5 separate regions of the Homo sapiens genome follow, and regions 1, 2, 3 and 4 are each linked to region 5. The links come from fine-mapping of genetic effects on gene expression. A gene starts in region 5. Each other region holds a variant in brackets. All regions are shown on one strand. Distances are from middle to middle.

The links.
Region 1: its variant is fine-mapped to the expression of SUSD2 in tibial nerve (GTEx, PIP above 0.99).
Region 2: its variant is fine-mapped to the expression of SUSD2 in whole blood (INTERVAL, PIP 0.95). The same link has a PIP of 0.9 or more in cerebellar hemisphere.
Region 3: its variant is fine-mapped to the expression of SUSD2 in sun-exposed skin (GTEx, PIP 0.91).
Region 4: its variant is fine-mapped to the expression of SUSD2 in whole blood (TOPMed, PIP above 0.99). The same link has a PIP of 0.9 or more in blood mononuclear cells.

Annotation. Positions count from the first base shown.
Region 1 is chr22:24,247,025-24,253,123 of GRCh38, reverse strand. It overlaps the pseudogene GGTLC4P and the pseudogene POM121L9P. Among named protein-coding and RNA genes, the nearest start is that of GGT5, 5.0 kb to the right of the region's middle. RefSeq lists enhancers at 1,043-1,543, 4,351-5,339 and silencers at 5,439-5,508, 5,249-5,543. The variant C/A (reference allele first, on the strand shown) is at 3,158.
Region 2 is chr22:24,021,017-24,026,540 of GRCh38, reverse strand. All of the region lies in intron 1 of CABIN1 (calcineurin binding protein 1), which reads right to left. Among named protein-coding and RNA genes, the nearest start is that of CABIN1, 12 kb to the right of the region's middle. The variant C/T (reference allele first, on the strand shown) is at 3,563.
Region 3 is chr22:24,203,634-24,209,732 of GRCh38, reverse strand. No RefSeq gene overlaps it. Among named protein-coding and RNA genes, the nearest start is that of SUSD2, 25 kb to the right of the region's middle. RefSeq lists an enhancer at 3,475-4,443. The variant T/C (reference allele first, on the strand shown) is at 3,225.
Region 4 is chr22:24,091,855-24,097,953 of GRCh38, reverse strand. CABIN1 (calcineurin binding protein 1) reads right to left here. Exons shown (of 37, transcript NM_012295.4): 25 at 1,872-2,023. Among named protein-coding and RNA genes, the nearest start is that of CABIN1, 84 kb to the right of the region's middle. RefSeq lists an enhancer at 5,678-6,099. The variant T/C (reference allele first, on the strand shown) is at 3,112.
Region 5 is chr22:24,178,176-24,184,274 of GRCh38, reverse strand. SUSD2 (sushi domain containing 2) reads right to left here and starts at 2,788. Exons shown (of 15, transcript NM_019601.4): 1 at 2,680-2,788; 2 at 1,008-1,218; 3 at 629-780; 4 at 1-139. The coding sequence starts at 2,755. CABIN1 (calcineurin binding protein 1) reads right to left here. Exons shown (of 37, transcript NM_012295.4): 37 at 5,647-6,099. The coding sequence ends at 6,079. RefSeq lists enhancers at 559-668, 739-818.

The DNA of each region.
Region 1 (6,099 bases), 69 kb before region 5:
TGCAGGAGCAGAAGTGCCATGCCTTGTTCTTCTCATGCCCGCATCCATGCTTGCAGCTGGGAAGGGGGCAGGAATCAGCGAGGTGACCTGGGCTGAGTCCTGGGAATCAGAAGAGGTGGCAGGAAGGGGATCTGAGGAGGAGAACAGGGGGCCTGGTGGTCTGTGCTTCTTCCCAGACATGGGAGCTGTAGAGGGGACCCCTGCAGCAGATGCTAAGGGGTCCAGTAGGCCCAGGCAGTCTTGGGACTTGTGTGTCTCCTGCTGTGCATCCATACTGGGTGCTTTAGAAACGGCAGGCAGACCAGAAGCCCCTGTTGCAAGTGAGGACAAAGTGTGGGAAGGCCGTGAGGGTCTGCAGTCCGAGATGGCCTTGTCCTCAACCTGCAGTGCACTGTTGATGCGCTGGAAGGCCGCCTCCTTCTCCCGGTCCAGGTCTTCAACAGTGACCCGGTACCCCAGCTCTAAGGGAGGTGGCAGCATCAAAGGCTCCCCTCGCCTGCGTGGCAGCAGGGGAAACTTGTGTGTACTGGGCCTAGAGGCCTCGGATGTGGAGGAGTCATTCCTGAGGGTGAGTGTCTGCCCTGGTGCTATATCTGCTGCCTTTTCACACTGGGTGTGACCTGAAGAGACAGCCTGAGGCCTGTCCTCACTCACTGTCTTTGAGGAACTGAGGGTCAGCTGGCAGTGGGATGAGGCTGGCCCCCTCCTCCGCTTTAGCCCCGGCAAGCCTCCCGTGGAGCTGTAGGAGCTGGAGATGGCATTTCGGTTGGTGCAGGAGCTCGTCCAGGAGGTCTGGGATGTCGGGTTATATCTGATTTCTGACCTCTGGGCATGGAGGTCTGTCTGCAGAGGCCCGGGCCCGGGCACAAAGGGAGAGAGGCCTCCATTGTCCCGCAGGGGCCGAAATGCAGACGGTGCATCCCCGGTGACCTCGGGGACCCTTCTCTGATCACCAGGATTCTCTTGGACTCTAGGGTCCTTGTCCTGCTCAGGCATCCCTGCCCCGCTCTCCTTGAGGGCCCTCAACACTATCTTCCCTGGACACAAGTCTGGGGACAGCCGGGTGTTGTGGACCCCAAAGGGGTGACTCCCGGCTCCTGGGCCCCACAGAGAGTCCATGTTCTCAGTGCAGTGGCTGAGCTGGAGGACGCCCTGGAACTCGGAGCACACAGCACTGGCTTGCTGTGGTACCTGTGCAATCAAATTGAAGGCAGGATCCCAGGAAGGAACGCAGGGCTTGCAGGATCACGGAAAACCTTCTTAGAGTTGTCTTGACACCACTGATGTCAAGTGTCCGGGTGCTTGTAGGATGGCCTGCCACTCAGTCCACGGGCAGGAGCAACGGGGAGATCCCACAGGCAAAGTGAACTGGGGGATGGGCTGAACGGGCTCCAGGCAACTGAGCCCTACTGGCAGGTCCTCGGCCTGGGCCCGAACAGGAAGGAGGGGCACAGAGTGCCCAGGTAACCGCTCCTGGGAGCAGTGGGGAACCGTCGGTTGCTTGAACTCTCGAGAGCTGGGCTCTGAGCGTCCTCGTCCAGCCGCCAACTCCGCCAAAGGCTAAGCCAGCAGTTTCTTCTGTTGCCGGGCAACGCGCCTTTTAAACCTGAGGGAGTGGGCGCGTGAGCACATCACGGCGCCCGTGACAGAGCGAGCTTAACGGATTAATAAGCGCAGCCAGGTACCCGCGCGAGGCACTTGCTGGCAATGGCGGGAGGCGGACGTGGGGGGTCATGCAATAGGTACTGGAAGGAGAGAGGCGGGCACAAAGGTTGCGGGAGGAACAGGTGCCCACAATGGTGGCAGATCTGCCCGTGGATCACTGAAGATTCCTGCTCTCCTGCTGAGGTGGAGATTGCAGTGAGCTGAGATCGCACCATTGCACTCCAGCCTGGGCAACAAGTGCAAAACTCAGTCTCCAGATAAAAAAAAGAAAAAGAAAAAAAAGAGGCCGGGCGTGGTGGCTTATGCCTATAATCCTAGCACTTTGGGAGGTCGGGGCAGACGGATCACGAGATCAGGAGTTGGAGACCAGCCTGGCCAACATAGTGAAACCCCGTCTCTAGTAAAAATACAAATTTAGTCAGACATGGTGGCACGCGCCTGTAGTCCCAGCTGCTCCGGCGGCTGAGACAGGAGAATCACTTGAACCCGGGGGCGGGCGGGGAAGGGATTGTGATGCGCCGAGATCGCGCCACTGCACTCCAGCCTGGGCAACAGAGCCAGACTCTCTCTCTTTTTTTTTTTTTTTTTTTGAGATGGAGTCTCCCTCTATCGCCCAGGCTGGATTCCAGTGGCCTGATCTCAGCTCACCGCAAGCTCCGCCTACCGGGTTCACGCCATTCTCCTGCCTCAGCCTCTGGAGTAGTTGGGACTGCAGGCGCCCGCCACCACACCCGGCTAATGTTTTGTATTTTTAGTAGAGACGGGGTTTCACCGTGTTAGCCAGGATGATCTCCATCTCCTGACGTCGTGATCCCCCTCCCAAAGTGCTGGGATTACAGGCGTGAGCCACCGCGCCCGGTGTTGAAACTCCCTTGAGGCATTTTCTTCGGCCTTCGGGTCCATCCTCTGTCTCCTCCTTGACCTCCTCATCTCCTCCTCGCCACTGCCTTGGGGACCTTGGCCAGGCTCATGGCATCCAGCAGCCACTCAATGTCAATACCTCCATGTTCATCTCTCAGCCCGCCCTTGCCCGTGAACCCATGCTTATTTATTTATTTTTTTATACGTGCACCCATGCTCTTCAGGTCTGATGAAGTATCCAGAATCAAGCTCCTGACCATCCCCAAACCTGCCCTTTCTGCAGGGTTTACCTCGCTAGTCGGCACCATCCTTGATTCTTCTCTTTCTCCCACCCAGGCCATCATCTCTTGCCTGGTTGATACCCACAGCCTCCCCTTTGGGCTTTATCCTTATCCCCGTCATAGCTGCCAGAGGGACCCTGTGAAAACACTCCCCAGCCTGCTCATTCCTCTGCCCTAAGCCTGCATGGCACAGAGCAAAAGCCAGTTGTTATGGGACCTAGGAGGTCTTGTGGGATGGGCCCCAGCCTGCATCTTCATCCTCTTCTCCCCACCCCACTCCATTCACTCTTTGCCTATCGCTCACCAGCCTATACCACCTGCCTCAGGGCCTTTGCACTGACCATTTAGGC[C/A]ACATTCCAGGCTCTTTTCACACGTTGCCTCCTCTGAGAAGCCCTCCCTGACCACTCTGCCCATACCTCATGCCTCTTGATTCCCCTTACCTGGCTTGTGGTTTCAGCACTTTCCCTGTGTGTGTTTGTTTTTCTTGGCATGAGGGCAGGACCTAAGTGTCTGTTCCCTGTTGATTCCCCAGTGCCAGGCATGCAGTGCAAACTCTAGAAATATTTTTTGCATGAAGGAATGAGTGATTGAATGCAGCAAGGGTCTGGAGGCTGAGGACCAGGCAGACAGACATTCAGAGTTGCTGGAACGCGACAGAGACAGGGAGTCAGACTGGTCTTGCAAGATCCTGGGCCTGCCCTTGGGTCCTGGGGAGCCACGGAAGGTTGTGGGTGCCAGAGGGTTGTGATCAGAGCCACAGTCAGGGGCCTTTTGAGACCTGTGCCCCCTCCCCACCCTCCCTCCCCACCTCCTCAGGCCAGCTCTGGGGTCTCGGCAGGTGGTCCGCAACATGACCTCTGAGTTCTTCGCTGCCCAGCTCCGGGCCCAGATCTCTGACGACACCACTCACCCGATCTCCTACTACAAGCCCGAGTTCTACACGCCAGTTGATGGGGGCACTGCTCACCTGTCTGTCGTCGCAGAAGACGGCAGTGCTGTGTCCACCACCAGCACCATCAACCTCTAGTAGGGGCTGCTGGGCCGCCTGGGTGGGAAAGGGCCAGGGGCGGGTGGCCCAGGGACTGCCCACTTATCCAGTAAGGTGGCTCCGTCACCTCTTTTCCTGGTGGGAAACTGAGGCCCAACCTTGGTAGCTTATCCTGGGCCTCTCAGTGAGTATGTTTGAGCCTCAGTGGGTGGATAGGGACCAGGCTGGGCCAGGCAAGGTCGGGCACTGTCTGACCTGGCTGGGCGGTAGCTTTGGCTCCAAGGTCCGCTCCCCGGTCAGCGGGATCCTGTTCAATGATGAAATGGACGACTTCAGCTCTCCCAACATCACCAACGAGTTTGGGGTGCCCCCTCACCTGCCAATTTCATCCAGCCAGGTATGGGGTGGAGGTCCGGGGGTGGGGGACTGGGGTGGAGAGGGGCGGGTGTCCTGGGCAGGCAGCTGACGGGCATCCCTGTCTTCTCCCATCGGCCATAGGGAAGCAGCCGCTCTCGTCCATGTGCCCGACGATCATGGTGGGCCAGGACGGCCAGGTCCGGATGGTTGTGGGAGCTGCTGGGGGCACACAGATCACCACAGCCACTGCACTGATATGTGTCACAGCTTTTCTCCCTGGCCGTGCCCACCCTGCACAGCCCCCAAGCCACGCTGATCACACTCCCATGCCCCAGGCCATCATCTACAACCTCTGGTTCGGCTATGACGTGAAGCGGGCCGTGGAGGAGCCCCGGCTGCACAACCAGCTTCTGCCCAACGTCACGACAGTGGAGAGAAACATTGACCAGGTGGGCCGGGGGTTGGAGAAACTGAGTCACGGTGTGGGGCCCCAGGGCATCCTGGGCTGGAGGCCTGGATCATCACAGAGTGGACAATGGTTGGTGTCCTCTCTCTAGTGCCTGGGCCATCTGGAGCCCCTGTGACATGAAGGCCAAACCCCCTGCTCCAGTGAGACCCAGCAGGCCCCAACCTGCTCTTCCTGATGACCTGGCCCGAAATGGCACCACCTGGGCTGAGGCCTGTGACCACACAGATGTGGTTCAGGTGGCATCTGGAGCCTTGCTCAGGCTTCCCCTCTCCTCCCACCCCCAGGCAGTGACTGCAGCCCTGGAGACCCGGCACCATCACACCCAGATCGCATCCACTTTCATCGCTGTGGTGCAAGCCATCGTCCACACGGCTGGTGGCTGGGCAGCTGCCTCGGACTCCAGGAAAGGCGGGGAGCCTGCTGGCTACTGAGTGCTCCAGGCGGACAAGGCTGACAAGCAATCTAGGGACAAGATACTCACTAGGACCAGGAAGGGGACTCTGGGGGACCGGCTTCCCCTGTGAGCAGCAGAGCAGCACAATAAATGAGGCACTGGAGAGGCGGGATTCGGAGATCTTCACGCTGCGGTCGCTGGAACTAGCCTCAGCATCTTCAGCATGGGGAAAGCCAGGCACGTGGCTGGGGGCCAGGGGAAGGTCCATGCCAAGCCCTGCCCCTTCCCACCCTGATCCCTCAGACTTGGGGCCAGGCCCTCCCTTCCCTGGGCTGGGCAGCAACACCACCTAGGACCAGCCACCAGAGGGTGCAGCGACCCCGGCCCTTTCTTAGGCAGAGAGTGGCCAGCTGATGCCGGGAACCCGGGTGCCTTCTCAGACCCGTAGGCGTCCAGCTCACCCTGCCGAGGACATGGGAGGTGAAGCTGAGGTCTGAGGAGTGGGGATTGGGCAAGAGGCTGGAGGAAAACATCTCAGTCAGAGCCAAGCCCCTGGGGGGTTTCCAAGTTTAAGCCCAGAGTGAAACCCAAGCTTGTGATCCTCTCCAGAGGGAGGCCTGGTTCTCAGGGAACAGCAAACTGGAAGAGGTCCCCAGATCCCAGGGATCAGGGCTTGGACCAGCCGGGGATGCAGCCCAGAGGGAGTGGGTTTGGAAGGGAACAACTAGACACAGCAGCCTTCACCATCAGCAGCCCCTCCAGGCCTCCCTCGGGGCCTGCTCCCTCCTCCAGGCACAGTTCCAACACCTGGGGCAGGATTCTGGGAAAGGCTGGTGGAGATAGGCTGGTGAGGGGTGGTGGTCACAGCCCAGCACCAGGGGCACTCTGGATATCACCAGGGGCACTCTGGCCAGGGCCCAGGTGAGGCCAGGTCGGGGCTATCCTTCAGGAGCCCCGAAAACCTGGTGATACCAAAGGGCCCACAAACAGGGTTTTGTGCCTGCAGAGTAGAGTACCACCGGTTCTGAGCCCTGGAGGGCTGTGTCTCTGGGGCTCCCAGTTGAGTGATGTACGAGTCACTCCT
Region 2 (5,524 bases), 160 kb after region 5:
TCAAAATGGATCATTTCTAAACATAAAATACAAAACAAAGAAAACACAGGAGAAAATCCTTGAAACCTAGGGTTAGACAAGCCTTCAGACAACACAAAAAAACACAACCCATAAGCAAAAAACTCAATAAACTGAACTTCCAAATTGAAAAACTCTTGCTTTACAAAAGACACTGCTACAAGAATGAAAAGGTCAGTCCTTCCACCAAAACAACCAGTAAACTAGGAAAATAATCATCAAAATCTACTGTTTCAAACTCTGGAACCTGGCCAGGCATGGTGGTTCACACCTATAATCCCAGTACTTTGGGAGGCCAACACAGGATGATTGCTTGAGCCCAGGAGTTTGAGGCCAGCCTGGGCAACAGAGTGAGACCTCGTTTCTACAAAACATAAAAAAAATTAGTCCAGGCCCAGTGGATCAAGTCTATAATCCTAGCACTTTGGGAGACAGAGATGGGTGGATCACTTGAGCTCAGGAGTTCGAGACCAGCCTGGGCAACATAGTGAAAACCTGTCTCTACAAAAAAATACAAAAAAATTAGCTGGGCGTGGAGGCACATGCCTGTTGTTCCAGCTACTAGGGGGCTGAGGTTGGGAGGCTCACTTGAGTCCAGGAGGTTGAGGCTGCAGTAAGCTGAGATTGTGCCACCGCACTCCAGCCTGGGCAACAGAGTGAAAGCCTGTCTCAAAAAAATAAATTAGCTGGGCGTGGTGGCACATACCTGTAGTCCCAGATACTTGGGAGGCTGAGTGGGAGGATAACTTCAGCCTGGGAGGTCGAGGCTACAGTAAGCTGAGATTGCACCACTGCACTTCAGCCCGGGTGACAGAGTGAGAGCCTGTCTCAAACAAAGCAAAACAAAACAAAACAAAACTTTGCAACCTGACTGAACACTTAAAACAACCAGCAGAGCGTTTGATGAGCAGAGGCTGCTGATATTTGGTAAAAGAATAACTTGACTCAGCTACCATCCCCCATTCCTCGGCCCCACCACTCACGGCTATAGGGATAGCAGCTCATGTTCCTAAAGTGGCTGGCTGGTTCCAAACCTACAAAAATGTGGGTTTGTGCACTTTGGTTGGTCTGGCAGATCCCTGTAGAACTGGTATATACTTGCCTTGGTTTTGGCCTTCTCAGGCTATCGATGTTTTCACAGGTGGCTTCTATCAGAAGATTTAAAGAGATGGAACACCTTTTCCCCCCTTTTGAATCAGACATTTAAGGAAATCGTTGTCAGGTCACTGGCTGACCAAAGAAATAATGGAACAGAATCTACAGTGCCCACAAACAACAAGGAATACATTTTGCAAAAATAGTTTGAAAAAGTCAAAAATTGATGGCTGCAGCCCTCAACAAGAAAAAGTCAGAAATCTGACTTCCAACATTATCCATACTATAATACTTAGAATGTACAATTCTAAACAAAAAAATTACAAAGAATACAAAGAAAAAAGAAAATGTGGCACATTCACAGGAAAAAGGAATTTGATAGAAACCATCCCTGAGAAACTGAATTTGATAGAAAATATTCCTGACCAGACACTGAAATTACTAGTCAAAAATATTAACTGTCCTAAATACACTGAATCAACTAAAGGAAATCAGGATAGATGAACAAAATAATAAAGGAAATAAGGAAAATAATGTAAGAACAAGATGAGATTATCACTAAAGAGACAGAAATTCTAAAAAGAAATCAAACAAAAATTCTGAAGACTAAAAATACAACTGAAAATTCAAAAACAAATGTGAGCAGGCGAAATAAATGGTCAGCGAATGTGAAGGAAAGGCAATTGAAATTATCCAGTGTGAGAAAAATAAAAAGAATAAAGAAAAATGAATAGAGACATACGGACATATGGGGGATACCATCTAGAAAACTAACGTATGTATCATATGAGTATCTGAGGGAGAAGAGAGAAAGGGGTAGAAAAATTATTCGAAGAAATAATGGCTGAAAACTCCTCAAATCCAATTAAAGACATTAACATACATATCCAAGAAGTTCAATGAACTCTAAGAAGTACACATTCAAAGACATCCACATTGAGACACATTATAGTCAACTTATTAAGACCAAAACCAAAGAGAAGATCTTGAAAGCAGCAAGAGAGAAGCAATTCTTAGGAAAAAACATATGGAAAAATCTTCATGTCCTTGGATCTGGCAATAGCCTCTTAAGCATGACACCAAAAGCACAGGAAACAAAAGGAAAAATAGATAAATTAGACTTCATCAAAATGTAAAACTTTTATGCAAAGGTAGCACATGTATACATATGTAACTAACCTGCACAATGTGCACATGTACCCTAAAACTTAAAGTATAATAAAAAAAAAACTTTTATGCAAAGGACACTATCAAAAAGTGAAAAGACAACACACACAATGGAAGAAAATATTTGTAAATCATATACCTAATAAGAGATTAATATCCAGAATATATAAAGAACTCCTACAATTCAACAACAAAAAGACAAACAAGTCAATTTAAAAATGGGTAAATGACTGGGCATGGTAGTTCACGTCTGTAATCCTAGCACTTTGGGAGGCTGAGGCAGGCAGATCACTTGAGGCCAGAAGTTCGAGACCAGCCTGGCCAACATGGTGAAACCCCATCTCTACTAAAAATAAAAAAATTAGCTGGGCATGGTGGCAGGCACCTGTAATCCAGCTACTCAGAAGGCTGAGGCATGAGAACTGCTTGGGCCCGGGAGGCAGAGTTTGCAGTGAGCCAAAATCGCACCACTGCACTCCAGCCTGGGTGACAGAGCAAGTCTCCATCTCAAAAAAAAAAAAAACAGGTAAATGACTTTCAAAAGACATTTTCTCTAAAGAAGATATAAAAACACCTGTAAGTGCATAAGATGCTTATCAGGGAATTGTAAATTAGTCATCCAGGAAATGTAAATCAAAACTACAGTGAGATACTATTTCCATCCACTAGAATGGCTATTATCAAAAAAATAAAACAGAAAGGAAATGGAAAATAACAAGTGTTGGCAAGGATGTAGAAAAACTCAAACACTCATGTACTGCTGGTAGGAATGTAAAATGGTCCAGCCCCTGTGGAAAACAGTTTAGTAGTTCCTCAAAAAGTCAGACATGGAATTGCTACATGACCCAGCAATTCCACTCAGGTTTTTACCTGAAAGAACAGGACTTGAACAGATACTTGTTCACCCATGTTCACTGCAGCATTATTCACAATAGCCAAAAGGTAGAAACAAACCAAGTGTCCACCAATAGATGGATAAACAAAATGTGGTATACAAATACAATGAAATAGTATTCAGCCACAAAAAGGAATGAAATTGTGATACATGCTCTATAACATGAATGAACCTTGAAAACACTATGTTAAGTAAAATAGGCCATATACAAAAGTACAAATATTGTTTGATATACAAGGTACCTAGAGACTGAAAGTACCACAGCCTGCAAGAAGGGAGGAATCAAGAGTTACTGCCTAATAAACACAAAGTTTCTGTTTGGTATGATAAAAATTTTTTGGAAATAGATAGTGGCACAGTTATACAATGTTGTGAATGTTCTTTATG[C/T]CACTGAATTGTTCACTTAAAATGGTTACAATGGTAAATTTTATGTTATACAAATTTTGGCACAATAAAAAAAGACCAATTAAAAAATGGGCAAAAGACTTGAACAGATACTTCACCAAAGACAAGTAAATAAATTAAAAGATGCTCAACCTCATTCATCATTAGAGAAATATGAATTAAAACCATGATGAGCTACCATATGCACCTATTAAAATAGCTGTATTTTTTTAAAAACTGATAATGCCAACACAGAGCAACTGGAAGAATCATACACTGCTGATAGGAATGGAAAATGGTTCAACCATGCTAGAAAACAGTTTCTTATAAAACTCAACATACACTAGCATATGATACATCAATCTCACTCCTAGTTATTTATCCTAGAGAAATGTTCACACAAAACTTGTATAAAAATGTTTACAGCTCCACTCAAATCACCAAAAACTGGAAACAACTCAAATATCCTTCATTAGGTGAGTAGATAAACTGTGATATATCATACAGTGGAATACTACTACTAATGTGAAGGAACAAACAATTGATATATGAAACAACTGAGGTGAATTTCAAAGGCATTATGCTAAGTGAGAAAAGCCAGTCTCAAAAGGTTGTACACTATTATATTTCTATTTACATGACATTCTTGAAATGACAAAACTATAGTGATGGAGAACACATCAGGGGCAGCCCGGGGTAAAGGAAGGTGTCTGTAAAGGGGTGCCATAAGCAATGGACTGTTCCTTATCCTGATAGTGGTAATGATGGTGGTGGTAACAAGTCTACACATGTGTCAAAAGTCACAGAACTATAACTCCAAAAAAGGTCAAATAATTTAATTAAACATAATAAGTATAAAAAAATTCTAATAAAAGGAAATACAATTTGTTAAAAAAAATAGCACAGGGATAGACATCAAAGTAGAATTCAAGCCCAAAAGTATTAAATGTAACAAAGGCACAATTCACACTGATGATATGACAGTCAAGAATATGCTGGCCGGGCACGGTGGCTCACACCTGTAATCCCAGCACTTTGGGAGGCCAAGGTGGGTAGATCACCTGAGGTCGGGGATTCGAGACCAGCCTGGCCAACATGGTGAAACCCCATCTCTACTAAAAATACAAAAAATAGCTGGGCATGGTGGCATGTGCCTATAATCCCAGCTACTTGGGAAGCTGAGGCAGGAGAATCGCTTGAACCTGGGAGGCAGAGCCACTGCACTCCAGCCTGGGGCAACAGAGTGAGGCTCTGTCTCCAAAACAAAAACAAAAACAAAAACAAAAAACAAAGAATAACCCAAAGGAGATGCAAGGACACATAAACAGTAACACCCTAAAAATTAGAGGCTTCAAACCAATCTCAAAACAAGACAGATCACGCACCAAGTATGGCAGTGTGCACCTGTAATTTCACCTACTCAGGAGGCTAAGGCCCAGAAGTTCAAGTCCAGCCTGGGCAACACAGCAAGACCCCATCTCTTGAAAAAATAATAAATAAATAATTTTTTAAAAAAGACAAATTGATCGGGCACTGTGGCTCACACCTGTAATCCCAACACTTTGGCAGGCCAAGGCAGGAAGATGGCTTGAGCCCAAGAGTTCGAGACTAGCCTGGGCAACATAGTGAGACCCTGTCTCTACAAAAATATTTTAAAATGATGGCCAGGCTTGGTGGCTCATGCCTGTAATCCCAGCACTTTGGGAGGCTGGGGTTGGAGGATCCTTTGACTCCAGGAGTCCGAGACCACCCTGGGCAAGATAGTGAGACCCCCATCTCTAAAATAAATAAATAAATAAATAAATAAAATAAAAATTAGCCAGGCATGGTGATATGCACCTGTAGTCCCAGCTACTGAGCAGACTGAAGTGGGAGGATCACTTGAACCCAGGAGTTCAAGGCTGCAGTGAGCCATGATCACACCACTGCATTCCAGCCTGGGATACACAGTGAGACCCTGTCTCA
Region 3 (6,099 bases), 25 kb before region 5:
CCGTGTGCACGATTACTTGTCTTGTGGCTGCCCAAGACCATGCTTCTGTCTGTAAGTTTCCCGTAATGAATTGTGCCACACCAACAAACTTGATTTGTCGGCCTCCTTCTTTGGTTTCTTGGCTCCTTCAGCATGTGGGGGTCTCTTTGCACATATGGTCCTTTCACAGAACTTCCCTTAACCCGAATATATATCTTAATACAACAGAAACGGCATGAGTTGGGCTGGGTGCTATTCTATTCCTTTACATGCGTTAATTTATGTAATTCTCTCCAGAAGGGGAGCTGTGATTATACCAGTTTTATAGATGGGGAGACTAAAGTACTAACGTTCCAAATGTAAAAATTAGCTGGGCATGGTGGTGGGCGCCTGTAATCCCAGCTGCTTGGGAGGCTGAGGTGGGAGAATCACTTGAACCTGGGAGGTGGAGGTTGCAGTGAGTCGAGGTTGTGCCACTGCACTCCAGAGCAAGATTCTGTCTCAAAACAAACAAACAAACCAAAATGAAACCATATGAATATCACAAGAACACATGGGCAAATTTTGTTTATGTTCTTAGAGTGGGGCAGGCCTTTTTAGGCATGTCATAAAACCAAAAAGCCATAAAAGAAAAAAGCTAATAAATATGAACATGTAAAAATTAAAAATTTAAATTTAGTTTAATTTTTATTTTTATTTAAATATTAAAAGTTTTTTTGAGATGGAGTCTCACTCTGTTGCTCAGGCTGGAGTGCAGTGGCACAATCTCAGCTCACTGGAATCTCCGCCTCCCGGGTTCAAGCGATTCTCCTGCCTCAGCCTCCCAAGTAGTTGGGATTACAGGCGTCCACCACCACATCCGGCTAATTTTTGTATTTTTAGTAGAGGCAGGGTTTCACCATCTTGGTCAGGCTGGTCTCGAACTCCTGACCTCAGGTGATCCACCTGCCTCAGCCCCACAAAGTGTTGGGATTACAGGTGTGAGCCACCGCCCCCAGCCAAAAATTTTTGATTTAAAAATAATTTTAAAAATAGAGATGGGGTTTTGCCATGTTGCTCAGGCTGGTCTCAAACTCCTGGATTGAAGCAATCCACCCACCTAAGCCTTTCAAAGTGCTGGGATCTCAGGTGTGAGCCACTGTGCCCAGCCTTCACTGGTCTTTTCAGAATTTTTTTTTTTTTACATAAAGCTGAACACAATGGTTCCCACCTGTGATCTCAGCACTTTGGGTGCCTCAGGTAGGTGGATCACTTGAGCCCAGGAGTTTGAGACCAGCCTGAGCAACACAGTAAGATCTCATCTCTATTATCAACAACAACAACAACAACAACAAAAGACCAGTGAAAAACCTGGAGAAAAACAGTTTCAATACATGATGTGGGGCTGGTTTTTGAAATATTTAAATACTTAAATATTTAATATTAGAGACCAAGTATCCAGTAGAAATATGAACAGGGATGTGACTCATTGTTTGCAGAAAGAAAACTACAAATGGCTGTTTCAACAGACAAAAAGTTCTCAAGCCTACTCATAAATAAACATTGCCAATTCAAACAACAGTGAGATCCCACAGGGCCAGAGGAAGTGACTCCGAGCCCAGAACTTCCTCAGTGAATTCTTTGAAACCCTGATGAAAGAAAAAATACCAGTCTTACACAAACTTCCAGAGAACAGAAAAGAGGAAAGGTTGCTCAACGTCTTTGAAGAAGCTAGCATAACCTTGAAAGCAAAACCTGGCCAAAAAAATGTCAAGAAGGAAAAGTCTAGGGCTATTTGATTCATGAACAGAGATGCATAGCCCTTAAAACATGAAGAAACCAGGGCTTGAAAGGAAAAAATATGCGTCACCACCAATTTAGGTTTGTTCCAGGAATGCAAGATTGGCTGAACATTAGAAAATGAAGCCTCACACCTGTAATTCCAGCACTTTAGGAGGCTGAAGCCTATGGATCGCTTGAGCCCAGAAGTTCGAGACCAGCCGAGCCAACATGGTAAAACCCTGTCTCTATCAGAAAATGCAAAAATTAGCTGGGCATGGTGGCATGCGCCTGTAGTCCCAGCTACTCGGGAGGCTGAGGTTGGGGGATCACTTGAGCCTGGGAGGTGGAAAGCTATAGTGAGCCATGATCACACCACTGCCCCCGAGCCTGGATGACAGGGCCTGACCCTGTCACAAAACAAAAAGAAAAGAAAAAAGAAAATCAAGCAACACAATTCACCACACTCACAGAATAAAGAAGAAAAGTCACTCACCATCTCAGTAGATGCAGAAAAGCATTTGATAAAATTTGCCAACATTCAGTTACAATAAAAACTCTCAGCAACTAGGAATGAAAGGAAACTTCCTTAATCTGATAAATCGTGGCTACAAAAACCTACAGTAAATGTCATGCTTAAAGGTACAACATAAAAAGCCTCCCTTTTGAGATTGAAACCAAGCTAAGAATTATTTCATTATTTCCTTCCAGTATTACAGGGGAAGTTTTAGCCAATGTAATAAGGTGAGAAAAACAAAAGCCATAAAGGTTGGAAAGGAGGACATAAGACTGTCATTGACAGAGCAGGAGCATTGCCATCTTGGACAAGCACCATCATTTTAAAGTTCACCTTGATCAAAAACTGCCTAAATCCAAAGGGCATCAGCCTAATGGCTAAGGTCAGCATGACCATAAACCACAAATAACATCTCCAACCAGAAACATTCTAAAGCCCTCCCTGACCAGAGACATGCCAGCCCCGAGATAACCTCCCCTCCGGCCAGAGAGACATTAGCCCCAAGATAACCTCCCCTGGGACCAGAGACATTCCAACCCCCCCATAAACTTCTCCCCCACACAGAAACATTCCAAGCTTGTGATAAGCCCTCTAACCCTAAAAAACCAATAAATACTATTAGTATTAAAGACCAAGTATCCAGTAGAAATATGCACAGGGATGTGATTCACTGTTCACAGAAAGAAAACTACAAATGACTGTTTGTAAGAGAGAGTGCCCCTGACTGAAATCAGCCAGAAGCCCCTCTGGAGAATAAACCTGTCTTTGACTGTTGAGCCACTTTTCATGTTTCCTTCCTCTTTCTTTAACTCTTACAGTCATTATCTGTAGATACTCAAGAAACGGTTAGAAATAGGTGAATTGGGCCGGGCGCGGTGGCTCAGGCCTGTAATCCCAGCACTTTGGGAGGCCGAGACGGGTGGATCACAAGGTCAGGAGATCGAGACGATCCTGGCTAACACGGTGAAAC[T/C]CCGTCTCTACTAAAAATACAAAAAATTAGCCGGGTGCGGTGGCAGGCGCCTGTAGTCCCAGCTACTCAGGAGGCTGAGGCAGGAGAATGGTGTTAACCCAGGAGGCGGAGCTTGCAGTGAGCCGAGATCGCGCCACTGCACTCCAGCCTGGGAGACACAGCCAGACTCCGTCTCAAAAAAAATAAAAAAATAAATAAATAAATAAAAATAAAATAAAATAAAGAAATAGGTGAATTGAGCAAGGTCATTGTAATACAGAAGTTATTAAAAATAATTTTTAGACAAATAATAAAGGTAAAGGTTCTCGGTAAAAATTTTCCTGTAATAAAAAACAACCCCCAAACCATCTCTTTTCTAACAAAAAAGGCAGCTCGAAGGGCGGGGCCAGCAAGCTTTAATATGCAAATGTCGGCCTTTAAAAACTGGGTTCACCCAATATGGCAATTCCCACCATCATCTCCTTGTCACCAGGTATCCCAAGTGTCATGGCCACCTCCAGATAACATCATGTGTTCAAAACATTGCAATCTGCATTTGCATATTAAAGGACTAAAGTAAAAGGGCCAGGTTTTTCACTGGCTGGGTAAATAACACACCTGGTCAAACCAATCCCCTGGGCCTTATGCAGATCAAACACCAACTCCTCCAGCATCCCAATAAAAGCAACCACTTTTCTGACTCACATGGGGTTTCTCTTTATTCAAATCCCCCTGCTCTGTCTCTGTAAGGGGAAGCTGTTTTCTTCTTCCTTCTTTCTTGCCTATTAAACATTTTGCTCCTTAAAACCACTCCACCAGCCTGACCAACATAGTGAAACCCCGTCTGTACTAAAAATACACATATTAGCCAGGTGTGGCAGCACATGTCTGTAATCCCAGCTACTCAGGAGGCTGAGCCAAGAGAACTGCTTGAAACTGGGAGGCGGAGGTTGCAGTGAGCTGAGATGGTGCCATCGCACTCCAGCCTGGGCAACAAGAGTGAAACTCCGTCTCAAAAAAATAAAAAGCTAAAAACAAACAAAAAACCATTCCACATGTGTCGGTGTCATTAATCCTATCAGTACAAAACCAAAACCCTGGTGTTCCTCCAGTCATCAAAGCCGCATCAATTGGAATCAAGGAATATATGCAAAAATCAATGTTATTTCTACGTACCAGCCATAAACAAAAAAACCTTTTTTGAAGTAAAATCGCTTGTAGTAGTGTGAATCAAAAAGCATCTGAAACAGGTCTCAATCAACTTAAGAGTTTATTTTGCCAAGGTTAAGGACAATGCCCAGGAGGGGAAAAAAAATGGAATCACAGAAGCAGCCTATGGTCTGTGCCTTTCCCCAAAGGTGACTTTGAGGGCTTCAAAATTTAAAAAAGAAGAGTGAGGTGAGAAGATTGCTTGAGCCCAGGAGTTCAAGACCAGCCTGAGGAACATCGTGAAACCCCATCTCTACAAAAAAATACAAAAATTGGCCAGATATGGTGGTGCATGCCTGCAGTCCCTGCTACTCAGCAGGCTGAAGCACAAGGATCGATTGAGCCCAGGAGGTCCAGGCTACTGTGAGCCATGATTGCCCCACTGTACTCCACCCTGGGTGACAGAGCAAGACCCAGTGTCTCTCTCTCTCTCTCCCTCTCTCTCTCTCCTTCTTTCTCTCTCTCTCTCTATATATATAGCTCAATTCACCTATTTCTAACAGTTTCTCGAGTATCTACAGATAATGACTATAACAGTTAAAGAAAGAGGAAGGAAACATGAAAAGTGGCTCAACAGTTAAAGACAGGTTTATTCTAGAGAATAAACCTGAGAGGGGCTTCTGGCTGATTTCAGTTGGGCGCTCTTTCTTACAAACAGCCATATATATATATATATATATATAGAGAGAGAGAGAGAGAGAGAGAGAGAGAGAGAAAGAAAGCACAAAGGAGCAGGTAGGGGAAGAGTAAATTACGTATTCCTCTTGCATTACCAGAAAGAGGTCCCAATCCAGACCCCAAAGAAGGTTCTTGGATCTCCAGCAAGAAAGAATTCAGGGCAAGTCCATAGTAAGTTGATTAAGACAGTAAAGGAATAAAAGAATGGCTACTCCATAGACAGAGCAGTGTGGAGGGCAGCTGGTTGCCCATTTTTATGGTTATTTTTTATTATATGTGAAACAAGGGATAGATTATTTATGCCTCCCCTTTTTAGACCACATAGGTTAACTTCCTGACATTGCCACAGCATTTGTAAACTGTCATGGCGCCAGTGAGAGTGTAGTACTGAGGAAGACCTGAGGTCACTCTCGTTGCCATCTTGGTTTTGGTGGGTTTTAGCTGGCTTCTTTACTGCAACCTGTTTTATCAGCAAGGTCTTTATGACGTGTATCTTGTGCCGACCTCCTATCTCATCCTGTGACTAAGAATGACTTGACCTCTTGGGAATGCAGCCCAGTAGGTCTCATCCTCATTTTACCCAGCCCCTATTCAAGATGGAGTTGCTCTGGTTCACACGCCTCTGATACTTGTGCTCAGTAAATCAGTAAATCAGCACTTTACACAAGATTAGGTGAACATCGAGTGGAGATATTGAACTCAAGATAAGGTGAACATAGACTGGAGGTATTGAACCTTTTTTTTTTTTTTTTTTTTGAGACAGTCTCACTCCTTCACCCAGGCTGGAGAGCAGTGGTGCTATCTTGGCTCACTGCATCCTCTGCCTCCTGGGTTCAAGCGATTCTCCTACCTTAGCCTCCCGAGTAGCTGGGATTACAGGAACATGCCACCACTCCTGGCTAATTTTTGTATTTTCAGTAGAGATGGGGTTTCACCATATTGGCCAGGCTGGTCTCGAACCCCTGAACTCAGATATGCCCACCTCTGCCTCCCAAAGTGCCGGGATCAC
Region 4 (6,099 bases), 86 kb after region 5:
GTACTGGTAAGGGTGAATGCCCTTCCCAGGGCCCACTGCTCCCATGCACCTCTGGTGGCCCCCACCCCATCTGCCTGGTGTCACAGAGCCCATAGTTGCCCCTACAGCACCCACACAGGCTCTGGCTCCTAACTGGACACTGCCTAATCTTTCTGGCAGGGCGCGACCTGCATCTCTGAATTTCAGGCCCCAAGAGGCTCTATAGAGGAGCCAAAGAGTCTTTCTTCAGAAGCACCCTTGCATCTCTCCATGCAAAGTCTATGCCTTCTGTGTGACAGCCTGACAAACTTAAGACCTGACAAATGGGCAGACAGAAACACATCTGCATTTACTGCATGCTCACACATGTACAAGGATATGTGCTGCAACATAGTTGAGCAGAAACATTAGAAACACTCTAAATGTCCATTGGAGTGGTTACATAAAACATGGTACATCCATACTATGGTATAGTAAGTAGCCACTAGAAAGAATGAAGTGACTGGGGTACTATCTCCATGGACTGTTGCCCAGACCCACTGTCAGGGGAAAAAGCAAACTCTAAAACAATACCTTCTGTAGTTCATTTTTATAAAATAAATGAAACCTTACAATTGTATGTGTGCATTTAAGTGTTATAAATATACAGAAAATGATTTAGGAAATTAAACTGTGAATAGTAGCTAACTCTTGGAAGGAGATCTGTCACATTTTAGTCTACATGTTTATATACTACCTGAATGTTCTATAACAAGAAAGTATTCATGTATTATTTGTATAATTAAAAAAAATTTAACAGAATTATAACCAATGAAAGAAAGTATCATTGTATGTTGGGGGCCCTTTGTGACTAAAAAAATGGGTAGCTATAAATTCTGAGCACAGCGGCTGCCCACCTGAGTGGCCTGCCATGCATGGACGTGAACCTCCCCATAACCTGAGGGGCACACCGACTGTGGAGCTGGCTCACCTGTGGTGAACATCACACAGGCTATCTGTGGTCAGAAGCAGACAGCCCTCAAGCACAGGGCCTGGGTGCAGGCCTCTCTGGCACTCAGCTGAACCCCGCACAGTGCCCAGTCAGGCAGGGGTCAGCTGAATTTCGCACAGTGCCCAGCTAGGCAGCGGACTCAGAGATGGGGTGAGCTGAGCCCTCCCCTGGCTCCCATGTGGGCAAGCTGGCAGGTGGTGACCCTGAGCATGTCTCAGAAGCACAAGAATCAGCATGAGTCCATCAGGTTAATGGGCAGCTGCAACATTCCCCATGTCACCCCAAACCCATCTTTCTCCCTAGGACTTGCCCCTGAGGATGGGGCGGCACCAGGACCTGGGCCTGGAGTGAAAGAAGTCTGGGCTGTGGAGATGACTTACAACCACAGGGAGACTGGGGTCAGTCCAGGCCCACTGAGAGGACCACACCTGAGCCCCAGTCTCTCCGAGCTCTCTGGCACCACATGAGAAGCCCACACTTCCCACACTTCCCACTGCTTCTCAGGAGAATGGGCAGCAGACAAGGCCTTGGCAAAGGACCCAGGGGTGAGAGTCTGCAAAGCAAAAACTGACTTTCTACAGTGTTCTGCACAGAACAGAGCTGTGCCCCAGTGGAGAGGGCAGGAGGGCATCAGCTTCTCCCCAGGACTTCCCCTTAGGGTGGGGTAGCACCACACATGACCACAGGGTAAGGGGACTCACACTCACCCTCTCCTTCTCAGACTCAACAGAAATACCTTGGCCCAGCAAATGGGAGTTTCCAGATGGGTCCTAGGGACTCCATGAGTTCTAGTTTACTGTTTACTGTGTAGCAACCCTCTGAACAACACATTGCAGTAAACGAGCCATCTGGGATGCAGATGGGGTAAGCTGCTAGGGGTCGCCTGAAGGGTGCTACTCACTTTTCTGAAGCTTTGGGTGTGTTCTTCTCCTCGCCCCTGGCAAAGGGTCCTTCTGCAGCCTCCTTCATAAAGTTGACCAGGACCTCTGCACCAACCCCAGAATCGGGCTTCCCCAGGAGCTTCAGGATGGAAGCATGGAGCCGAAAGTACACCTAGGAGAACGACACCTCTAGTGTGAGCAGCCTTCCCAGTTGCTAAGATTTGTTCCACAGGCCAGTCAGCCACACTGGAAATGGGCCCATGACCAGGGCAACAGGCTGCCACACACTGCTTGTTTTTGTTAGCTTTTAAACCAACCATCCTACAACTAATTTAAAACAAGCTGTGAAAATTAAAATGTATACTGTCAGCATTCCAGCTTAAACGTTCACGCAGTAACTCAGGCACATGGTAGTGAGATGAGAGTAATAACCACTCATTATGATAACCCTTCAGCTCCGTTCACTGGGCACTGCCTCCCGCCACAGTGCTGCTGTTCTCTTTGTGCCCTTCAGTGGGCACCCATAGAAAGTGAGTTTCTACATCTGTCTCCCCACTGAACTCTGGACTCCCTGAAACAAGGACTAGGTTGGATTTCTGTTTATAGCCCAGCCCCCAGGCAAAGCCAGGCACCCACAGGCCTCGAAAACGTCTTCCCCGTGGGTGTGGTGGGGGGGTGGGTGGGCAGGCAGCTCATTGCATCCATTGGGCCCTGTGCTTTCCTCCATTTCCTCAAGTCCTTACCACATTCCTCAATTTAAAATGGGTGAAGAGCTGCCCAAGGCCCCACAGCCGGGAATGCCCAGGGCCAGGTTAAAACCAGGTCTGCCCTGATCTTCTCATGCAGGAGTGGGTGTGAGGCAGGCTCCCACTTGGAGGGCACAGTGGGTGGTATGAGGGCTGAGAACTGCCATTGCAGGCCCTGGCTAAGTGGCCCCCCTCACCCAGGTGAGAACCTGCTGGCAGCACTCTCAAGGAGGCATCCCAGACAGAGGGGTCTCACATCCAGAGCCCCTCCACCTCTAGCCCACCTATGGAGCCCAGAGAAATTGGCCCAGCAACTCCATTTTTAGATGTAGGAAACCACTCGAGGCACCCATGCACAATCAGGTGGCCAAACTTGGGGGAGGGCAAAGCATTCAACTGGTAAAGTTCATCCAAGTGGCGAGTAAAGATTCTTGAATGAAGGCACAATAGCAGAGGAGAATTTTTGTCAGGACAGAGTTAAAAATCTTCAGAGAAATGTCATTTTTGTTTCTTT[T/C]TTTTTTTTTTTTTTTTTTGAGACGGAGTCTCGCTCTGTCGCCCAGGCCGGACTGCGGACTGCAGTGGCGCAATCTCGGCTCACTGCAAGCTCCGCTTCCCGGGTTCACGCCATTCTCCTGCCTCAGCCTCCCGAGTAGCTGGGACTACAGGCGCCCGCCACCGCGCCCGGCTAATTTTTTGTATTTTTAGTAGAGACGGGGTTTCACCTTGTTAGCCAGGATGGTCTCGATCTCCTGACCTCATGATCCACCCGCCTCGGCCTCCCAAAGTGCTGGAATTACAGGCGTGAGCCACCGCGCCCGGCCAGAAATGTCATTTTTAACACAAGATATACATATTTACCAGCTGACTCAAAGTTACATAGCTACAATGGTTGCATGGAATGGGTTGCCCCCCAAATTAACTATGTGTGCTTGCTCTCCTTGGAGCCAGCACTGTGTGCTGGGAGAGGGTAGGCCACACATCTAAGGCCTTGGTTCCTCATATGGAAGCTGCTGGTACCCCTGGGGCTACCATCCTGCCTGCTCATCTGCTCTATCAGGCAGTAGTAGAGGCCAAATCTTGAAGAAAAAAACATGGAGGAAAAACAGAGTTGACATCATCTTCCTGAGGGCCACACGTAGGTTCAGTGGCTTCCCAGAGGTGCCATATGAGAATGCTGGGCTCAGTGGGCATCTGGCCCAGCTCCTCTCTGTTCCTGCAGGTGACTTAAGGCAAGTCATCACATCACTCCTCTGGGCCTTACCCTTCTCACCCCCAAAGTGGAGTTCTTCCAAGGCACCTGCCCCCAGGTGGACAGTATGAGCACTATGACAGGGAAGGACGGAGATCCAACGCCGCGAATGAGCGCAGCCAAGCTGCTGCTCCTGAGATAGCGTTCAACAGGAAGCTGTGTTTCCACACTTCTCCATGAGCCCAGTGAATATGGCCCCAAAACAGGCAAATTTAATTTTTTTTTTTTTAGACAAGGTCTCACTCTGTCTCCCAGGCTGTGAGTGCAGTGGTGTGATCACAGCTCACTACAGCCTCGACCTCCTGGGCTCAAGCAATCCTCCCACCTCGGCCTCCCAAGTTTCTGAGACTACAGGTGCGTGCCACCAGGCCTTGTTAATCTTTTATTTTTTGTAGAGATGGGGGGGTCTCATCATGTTGCCCGCTAGTCTCTGAGATCCCCAGCTCTATATCTCAAACTCCTGGACTCAAGCAATCCTCCCAAAGCAGTGGGATTATAGGTGTGAGCCACCATGCCTGGCCCAAACATTTTTTTTTAAATGAGTTTTTTTTTTCCTTTCTTTTTTGAGACAGGGTCTCACTCTGTCACCCAGGCTGGAGTGCAGTGGCACAATCTCAGTTCACTGCAACCTCCACCTCCCAGGCTCAAGTGATCCTCCCATCTCAGCCTCCCAAGTAGTTGGGACTACTGGCCTCCACCACCACACCTGGCTAATTTTTAGTAGAGATAAGGTTTCACCATATTGGTCAGGCTGATCTCGAACTCCTGACCTCAGGTGATCCACCCACCTCGGCCTCCCAAAGTGCTGGGATTACAGGCGTGAGCCACCATACCTAGCCAAAATGAGACATTTTTGTTTGCTCACAAAATTAGCAAATATTAAAAAGAGAACCTCATCAATATGGCTGAGGGAAAGCAAACACTCTCATCAGTCAGTACGACCTTGGGGCAAGTAGCCATTGTTGATCAGAATGCTAAACAACCTGGCAATTCCACCTTTGGACTCTAGTCCTTGGAAATACTCATGATGTGCTCCCTGCTTCAAGTACAAAGACATGCACTGCCTGTGCCTTGTCATAGCAAGAAGTGGAGAGGAAACCAAACCTATCAAGGGTCCGTGCAGATAAACAAACGCCCTGCTAAACTACAGGGCACTAGGGCAGGCAGGGAAGCTCACCACACCTTCCATTAAATTTTGTCCAGCGAAAAGACAAGCTGCAAAATCATAAGAAAATGTTACTATATGTTTATATGTTAATAGGAAAAAATTCGGACATACAGGGACATAGCAAACTCTTAGGGATTATGGAGGGGCATACTGGAATCACTAGGGGCCTTCACATTCACACTGTACACTTCTGAGTTGTTTGAATCTCTTTAAAACACACACACACACACACACACACACACACACACACACTTTTATAATCAGGAAAAAAAATCACAAAGGCAGAAAAAAGCAAGCAGCAGATTCTGTCCACACTCCAAGAGGCTTGCTGGGCACGTGAGACTGGTAGAGACTGGGCACATAGCCTCAGAAAGGGCAAAGCCAACGTGCACAGGGCCTTCAGAAGCTTCAAGTCCTGGGCTGAACCAAATGGTGGACATCTGGATCTCTACCAATGTCCTTGGTTTTCCTGCCTACAAAATTGACAATCGTGGCTGCCCAGCCTGCCTCACAAGACTGCTATAAGCAACAGTGACAGCATTCATCAGAAACACTCTGGAAACCATGAGAGAAAATCCAGGGAGTAAAGAACTGCTCTTTTCTTGAACAACAATCAGAAGACTCCAAACTGGGGGTCAAGAGAGCAGGCTGCTCACCCTAGCTCAGCCCCTGCCAACCTGGGTAGCCTGGGCACAGGCTGGGCTTTGGATGTCTCATTTGCACCCTGGAGGCAATGGTGCCTGCCCTCCCTCCTGCCAGGCTACAGGGTGTGAATGTCCTGGGCCTGGGAGATGCTATGTAGCACTGACTGTCATCACCAAGGTCAGGTTCTTAGAACCTGTGTTAGTGAGGAAAGACAATTTTCTTCTGAGAGATAAGAACAAAATGGTCACTCTCCCAGAAAGGATGATAAACACCCCTTGGGAAAAGAGAGGAAATGATGTTTTAATTCAATTGCACATGAAGCTGCTCAACACAGATAAGTTTGCGGCAGGTTGAAGGACGGTCACTGGAACCTTGAGCCACATGCCCAGGGAGATAAAGAAACCAGCCTGCCCCTGCCCTGCTTCCCCGCCCTGGGCCAG
Region 5 (6,099 bases):
GTGATGGTCTGCGTGGGCAGCGACTTGACATGCCAGGTCAGGCTGAGGTTGCCTGAGGTGTTGGCGGTGCCGTAGTATTGCCAACGCGTCTCGTTCACCAACTCGCTCTTCTCCATCATTGACACTTTGTTGGGGTGCACTGGGCAGGGGAGGTGAGGGGTGAGTGAGGGCCTGGGCCCAGGGAAGCAGGGAGGAGGCCCTGAGGCTTCAAGGGCTGTGGGAGCCTCCAGGGCCAATGCATGGCAGCAGCTGGGTGATGGTCTCTCTGGCCCGCACAGCAGAAAAGGACGCTGAGGCCGCAGAGGCAGGGGCCTGCCCTCCCTCCACTGCCCACGCCTCTAGCCTCGACCTGGCTTCTCCCCTGCCCTGGCATGGCGGAGCTCAGTGGATAGGCACTGGCCCACCTCTCTAGGGACCCCTGCAGCTCCCACTCACTCTGGGCTGGGACCGCGGTCTGGATGCCAGGGAGTGGAAAGGAGCTGAAGGAACTCTCGCAGGCGGGCAGGCCTCCCAAGGGACTGGTTCAGCCAGAGAGGCAGGGCACGGACAGGCCAAGTCTCGGTGTGCATAGATTAGCGCTGGGGAAAGTCCCCGTGGGGGCAGGCTGTGGGCAGGGAGGAGGGCTCACCAGCCAGCCAGGTGCCCGCACGAGGGAAGGAGTGGCCGTTGTCCAGTGACACAGTGAAGGGGATGCGGCCGCTCTCATAGAGCAGAGGTGACACACAGTGCACTTGCCCGGAGGAGTCCACATGGCCGAGGGTCTGGATGCTGTCCTTAAACCTGTGGGCGTGGTGGTGGTGGGAGGGGCTGGGTCATTGCAGGCTGAGCCTCTCGATGGTCTGGGCCCCCAACCTCCCTGGGGAACCCAACCAGCCAGCTGTCCCTGTGCCCTCCTGCCTGTCCTGGGTCCGAGGGGCTCCACTCAGCCAGTCAGTGGGTCTGAGCCCTCAGCATGCACAGGGATGGGGGCGTGGGGCCCCAGTGCCCGGCCTCCTGGGCCTCCCAACCTGCAGATCACACTGGCGTCTGTGGGGCTGGACATCTTGAAGTGCCGCACCACAAAGTCCTTGCCGCCCATCATGGATCCTGAGTAGGGCAATATCTCCAGGCAGAAGTCCCGGAAATCCAAGCAGCAGGTGCCAAGGCCAGAGCACGTCGGGTGGCAGGAACATGGCCCGTCCAGGGCGCCACAGCGCATGGAGCAGCTCTCTTGGGCATCTGGAGGAGAGGATGCTGAGGGCCTGGCCCGGCGGGTACTGGACTGGCTGCCCCATGTGCAGGGCCTGTCTCTGTTTCTCCCACAGCCCATTAGACAGCAGCATCCCCAGGAGAACGCTGGCCAGGAACTGCACAGGCCACCAGGTGGACACAGTAGAAAGCCACAGGGCCCGTGGGGATGGGATGAATCTTAGCACAGACCATCTGGCTGTTGCCCTGACTGACGGGCTAGAATGCAGCGAGAAGAGGCAAAAAGCTGCATCCGCTCAGCCCTGCAGGGTCAGGAGAAGCCCCTGGGCATGACTGCCCTTCAGCCACCAAGTCCTCTATCCCACAGGCAGGGGTCCTCAGTGGGCCACGGTAGCTGGAGCCCTCGACCTCTCTTGGCTCCCCAGGGTGTCTGTGGTCAGCACGCCTTCTGGGGGCCCTGAAGCCTGCAGAAGAACCCCTCTTGCTTGCCTGGACTGGGGTGGGGGATATGGCTGCCAAGAGTCTCATTTGAGGCCTGGTAGGGAATGGTGCAGGGTCTGAACGTGACACTTCTCGCTCTCCCAGGGGCTGCAATTGAGACCCCAAAGAGAGCTCCGTGCTCAGGGCAGAAGGCCAGGGCCGCTCCCCTCCTTTCTGGGGAGAGGAGGGACATTTCAAGCAGGGGTCCCAGCAGTGGGGAAAGGGAAGTGGGGGTGCACACCACAAGGGGCTGTGGGCGCCGGGCCCAAAACTTCTCCTATGGGCCATAAGACCGGTGGGCAAGGCCATATTTCCAGGGGCTGGCATGAAGGAAGGGTTGCAGGGAGGGACTGGGGCAGGTGCATGCACCCAGGCTGGAATTGCACTTCCCTGGCCCTTCCCCATCCCCCATCAAAAGAGGCCAGTCGAGGGCCAGGCCTGGGCCTGAGCCACCCCGCTGGCCCCACTTCACCAAGTGCAGTGCCTGGCACTTAAAAGCAACAATAAATATGTACTGGCCAAGGATTTGGTGGCGCACAGGGGTCGGGGGAGGAGGCCGAGAGATGCTTGCAAGTGAGATAAGTGGCAAGAGGGTCGATGGGAAATGGGGTGGGGGACGGGGGGCAGCCTGGGACCAGTGTCCTGGTTCTGGAGTTCGGGGCTTTCCCTAGACTTTCCTGGATTCAGCCCCACCCTGATGAGGACCCACAATCCTGGCTCCCCCTCCGTGATCCCGCCCTGTCAGGGCTGGGGACACAGGCGGAGGCCTCTGCTGGTCTCCCCCGCCTCCCTCCTAGCTACCAGCAGGTTTAGGGTGGGCCCGGCTCAGACCTCCCATCCCCATGGGCTGCCCCTCCACATGGACCCTCAGAATTTCTTCCCATCACCCCTAGCACAGCCACAGATGGCCTGACAGATGGACAGAGGCTGAGCCCAGAGGGATGTCAGCCCAGGCCTGGCTGCAGACAGATGGACAGACAGACGGGGACACAGAAGGGCAGGGAGGCATACCTGCTGTGGGTCCGGGGCCCGGGCCGAGGGCTGTCGCCAGCAGCAGCAGGGCCCAGGGCAGGAGGGCTGGCTTCATGGTGCAGCCTGTGTCTGCAGCCAGCAGTGCAGTGGCTCCGAGGCGAGGCGGCCAGACAAGCTCACTCCCTGCTGGCCTGGCCCCGCCCGCCCTGCACTCTGCGGCACCGCCCCGCCCCGCCCCTCCCCGCCCCTCCCCACCCAGTCCCCTCTCAAAGTCCACAGGTGCCTGCGTGGACCAGCAAGGCCCAAGTTGCCCCGTTAGCACATTCCTGGCCCGCAGGCCTGGATCGGCCCTGGGACCCTGTGGGAGGGTGAGGAGGCCGGAGCCTCCAGCCACAGGACCTTTGGCAGGCGATGAGCCGGATGTCCAGAGGGCGAAGCTCAGACCCTGGGTCCCAGCCCCGCCTTGCATGCAGGGCGAGCCCGGCGGGGCTGAAGCAGAGGATGGGATGCGCAGGGTGAATAAGGCAGGGCTGTTTTAGCTCCAGGGAGGATTCCAGACTCTGTGGCCCTGACATAGACCTCCATCTCTAGCCCTCATCTTCCTGCAGGAAGGAGGTGCACCCAACTCATCCTCAGGGGGAGGCAGGAGCTGTTTGGGTCAGACACAGGCTGAGCCCTGGGGCGGAGGCAGCTCTGCAGGGGTCCCCTCTGGAGGGAGGAAGGAGGAAGGGGAGAGAAGGTACCCAAGCCCAGCGGGGGGCCCGGAAGGGAGACAGGGCCCATCCCCGGGCTCCAGAGATGCCACCACCCTGGGGAGCCTTGGCTGTCCCAGCCACACCTAATCCTGCCGCTAAGAGTTTGCATAATTTAATCAGTATTCACCTCCCTTCTTGAGCAGATGAGGAAACTGAAGCTCAGATGCGGATAGGCAAGGCCGAGCCAGGCCCTTGGTGGCTTCTGGGAGCCCCTGCAGCCAGGGCGGGTGGTAAGGGCTGCGGCCTGGGACTGGTCATTTGGACCCTGACACCTGGGCTGGACATCCAGACAGGCGGGTGGTCCTCTCCCAGCTGCAGCTTCTCAAGGTGTCCAAAAGGGACCCTTGCCACACTTGCAGGGAGTCAGAGGTGGCCCCAGGGCATGAGCTTAGGCCATCCGGTCTGTGATCTGCCCCAGCGCTTGCGGCCAGGCCAGCCCATTGTTCCCCGGCCTGTTCTCTCTCTTGCCTGGGTGGTGCCTGCTGGGAACCACAGGGTGTTGGCAGCCACCCGTGGCTCCAGAGAGGTGGCCCCTACTGAAAGTGTTAGAGGCGTGTGCTGGGGGACTTGGCTCCTGAGTCCCCACACAGAGCTGTTCCAGGGAAGCCACACCCGCATTTGATGTTTTCCCACCTCCCAAAGACATTTGGTGAGAGGCCCCCAAGACCTTCAGCTTCTCAGGGACTGTCTCCAGAGGGGAGAAAGTCCCTTAACCCACAATGGCGCTCAGGGCACCTCTGCAGGTGAGTGTCCTGTAAGTGGACGCTCAGGTGCTGAGCCAGGGAGAGCCTGTCTCCTGGCCCCAGGCTGGCGAGGGCATTCATCCCAGGCCCAGGGCTGAAGTTGCTCCCTACAGCACTGGGTGCAGGGGAGGGTCCGAGGTGTCCGTCCTCCTATAGGTGAGGCTCCAGGGAGGGGTGCTGGGGGATCGGCTGAGACAGTTCCCGGGAACTGGAGGAGGGAGAGCTGCTGCTTCCTGTTTTTGGCCTGGGCACCGTTGCTGCGCGTGTCTGGAGACAATGGAAGTGCGGTAGGGGCTAGGTGTGCAGTCTGGGAAGCTCCATACCCCAGGCCCTGCAGGGAGGGGGCGTCAGCTGAGTAACTGGGGCTGGCTTATCTCAGCCCCCCGAAAGGCGGGTTCAGCCAGACCCATCTGGGGCCACCAAGCCTCTGGTTCCAAAAGGGCGGTGCCCAGCCCTTTACGCCTTTCCTCCTGGGTGGTGGGCATGTCCAGCCCATGAGGGGCACAGGGCAGTGAGGAGGGTCCCCATCTCCATCCTGGACAGAGAGCCTGCTCCATGGGAGGTCCCAGGGCCAGGAGGGCCCCTGCGGTGCTGGGAGGGGAAGAGAGTTGTGAAGGGTGCCAGCTCTAGGGGCTTAATGCTCTGTGGGGCCTGCCTTAAAATCCTTAATCATTTTTGGTCAGACATGGTGGTGGCTCAGGCCTGTAATCCCAGCACTTTGGGAGGCCAAGGTGGGTGGATCACTTGAGGTCAGGAGTTTGAAACCAGCCTGGCCAACATGGTGAAACTCCGTCTATACTAAAAATACAAAAATTAGCTGGGCGTGTTGGCGTGTGCCTGTGATCTCAGCTACTCGGGAGGCTGAGGCAAGAGAATCGCTTGAATCCAGAAGGCGGGGGTTGCAGTGAGCTGAGATCGTGCCACTGCAGATCGTGCCACTGCATTCCAGCCTGGGAGACAGAGTGAGACTCCATATCAAAAAAAAAAAAAAAAAAAAAAAAAAATCCTTAATCCTTTTTGATCAAGGAGCTTCATATTTATGTCTTGCACTGAGCCCAGCTATTCTGTGACTGGCCCCATTAGGGCGACTGTGATGGGAGTTAAGTACCCTCCCTGCCGGCCCCATCCCCCCTTTCCCTCCCTGACAGCCCCCTCCTCCCAGCCTCTCAGCTGCCCCAGCCCTGCCTGCCCTCCCACCGTACAGCCTCCCACCCACTGGCACCCAGGTGCGTTCTGGGGATGCACCTAACTCCCCTTTGAAGCCTGGCTCCAGCTGCACTAGAGGCGTCTGCCTGGCCCAGCCCCGAGTCGGCTCTCTCCTTACCCCACTGGGCACCCCCAGCCGCTGCTTTGGTTGCCTGGCTGGTCCCTGAGATGCTGGAGAAGGAGGGGGGCTAGGCCCTGCCCTATGGACTATGGCAGTAAAGGCCCAGAATCCCTGGGGACAGCAACTCTCCGCCAGAGACTCTGCCAGATTGCCCCCTAGAGGTGAGCAAAGAGGCAAAGACAACTGTTCCATCTTTATTAGAAAAGCAACCAAAAAAAGGGTGAGGGGTGAGCCTGGCCCTAAAGGACCCCTCCACTGTGACACAGGCAGAGCCGGCTCATCCCGGCGTCGAGGGGTGGATATGGCCAGCTGGGTGTGGGCAGATTTACAAAGTCAACACTTCATAGAAAAGGATGCCGCCTGGCGTGCAGATGGCGACCAATCCACCTTCACATGGCTAAGGCGGGCCCCTCCTCCTCTGGGCTCCCATGTGGTGTGGACAGCCTGACCTGGGTACAGGGAGGATGCCATGAGGAGGTGGGCTGGGCAGGCCTGGGGGCTGTGTGGGGAGTGGCATCCATGTGGGCCTCTGGTCCTGCCCAGGGTCCTGCCCAGGGGGCATTCCAGGCCTGGCTGGTCCCCTGGGGCGTGGCGGTGGGGCTGCAGTGGCCCCTCAAATGTCCATGTAGTCGTC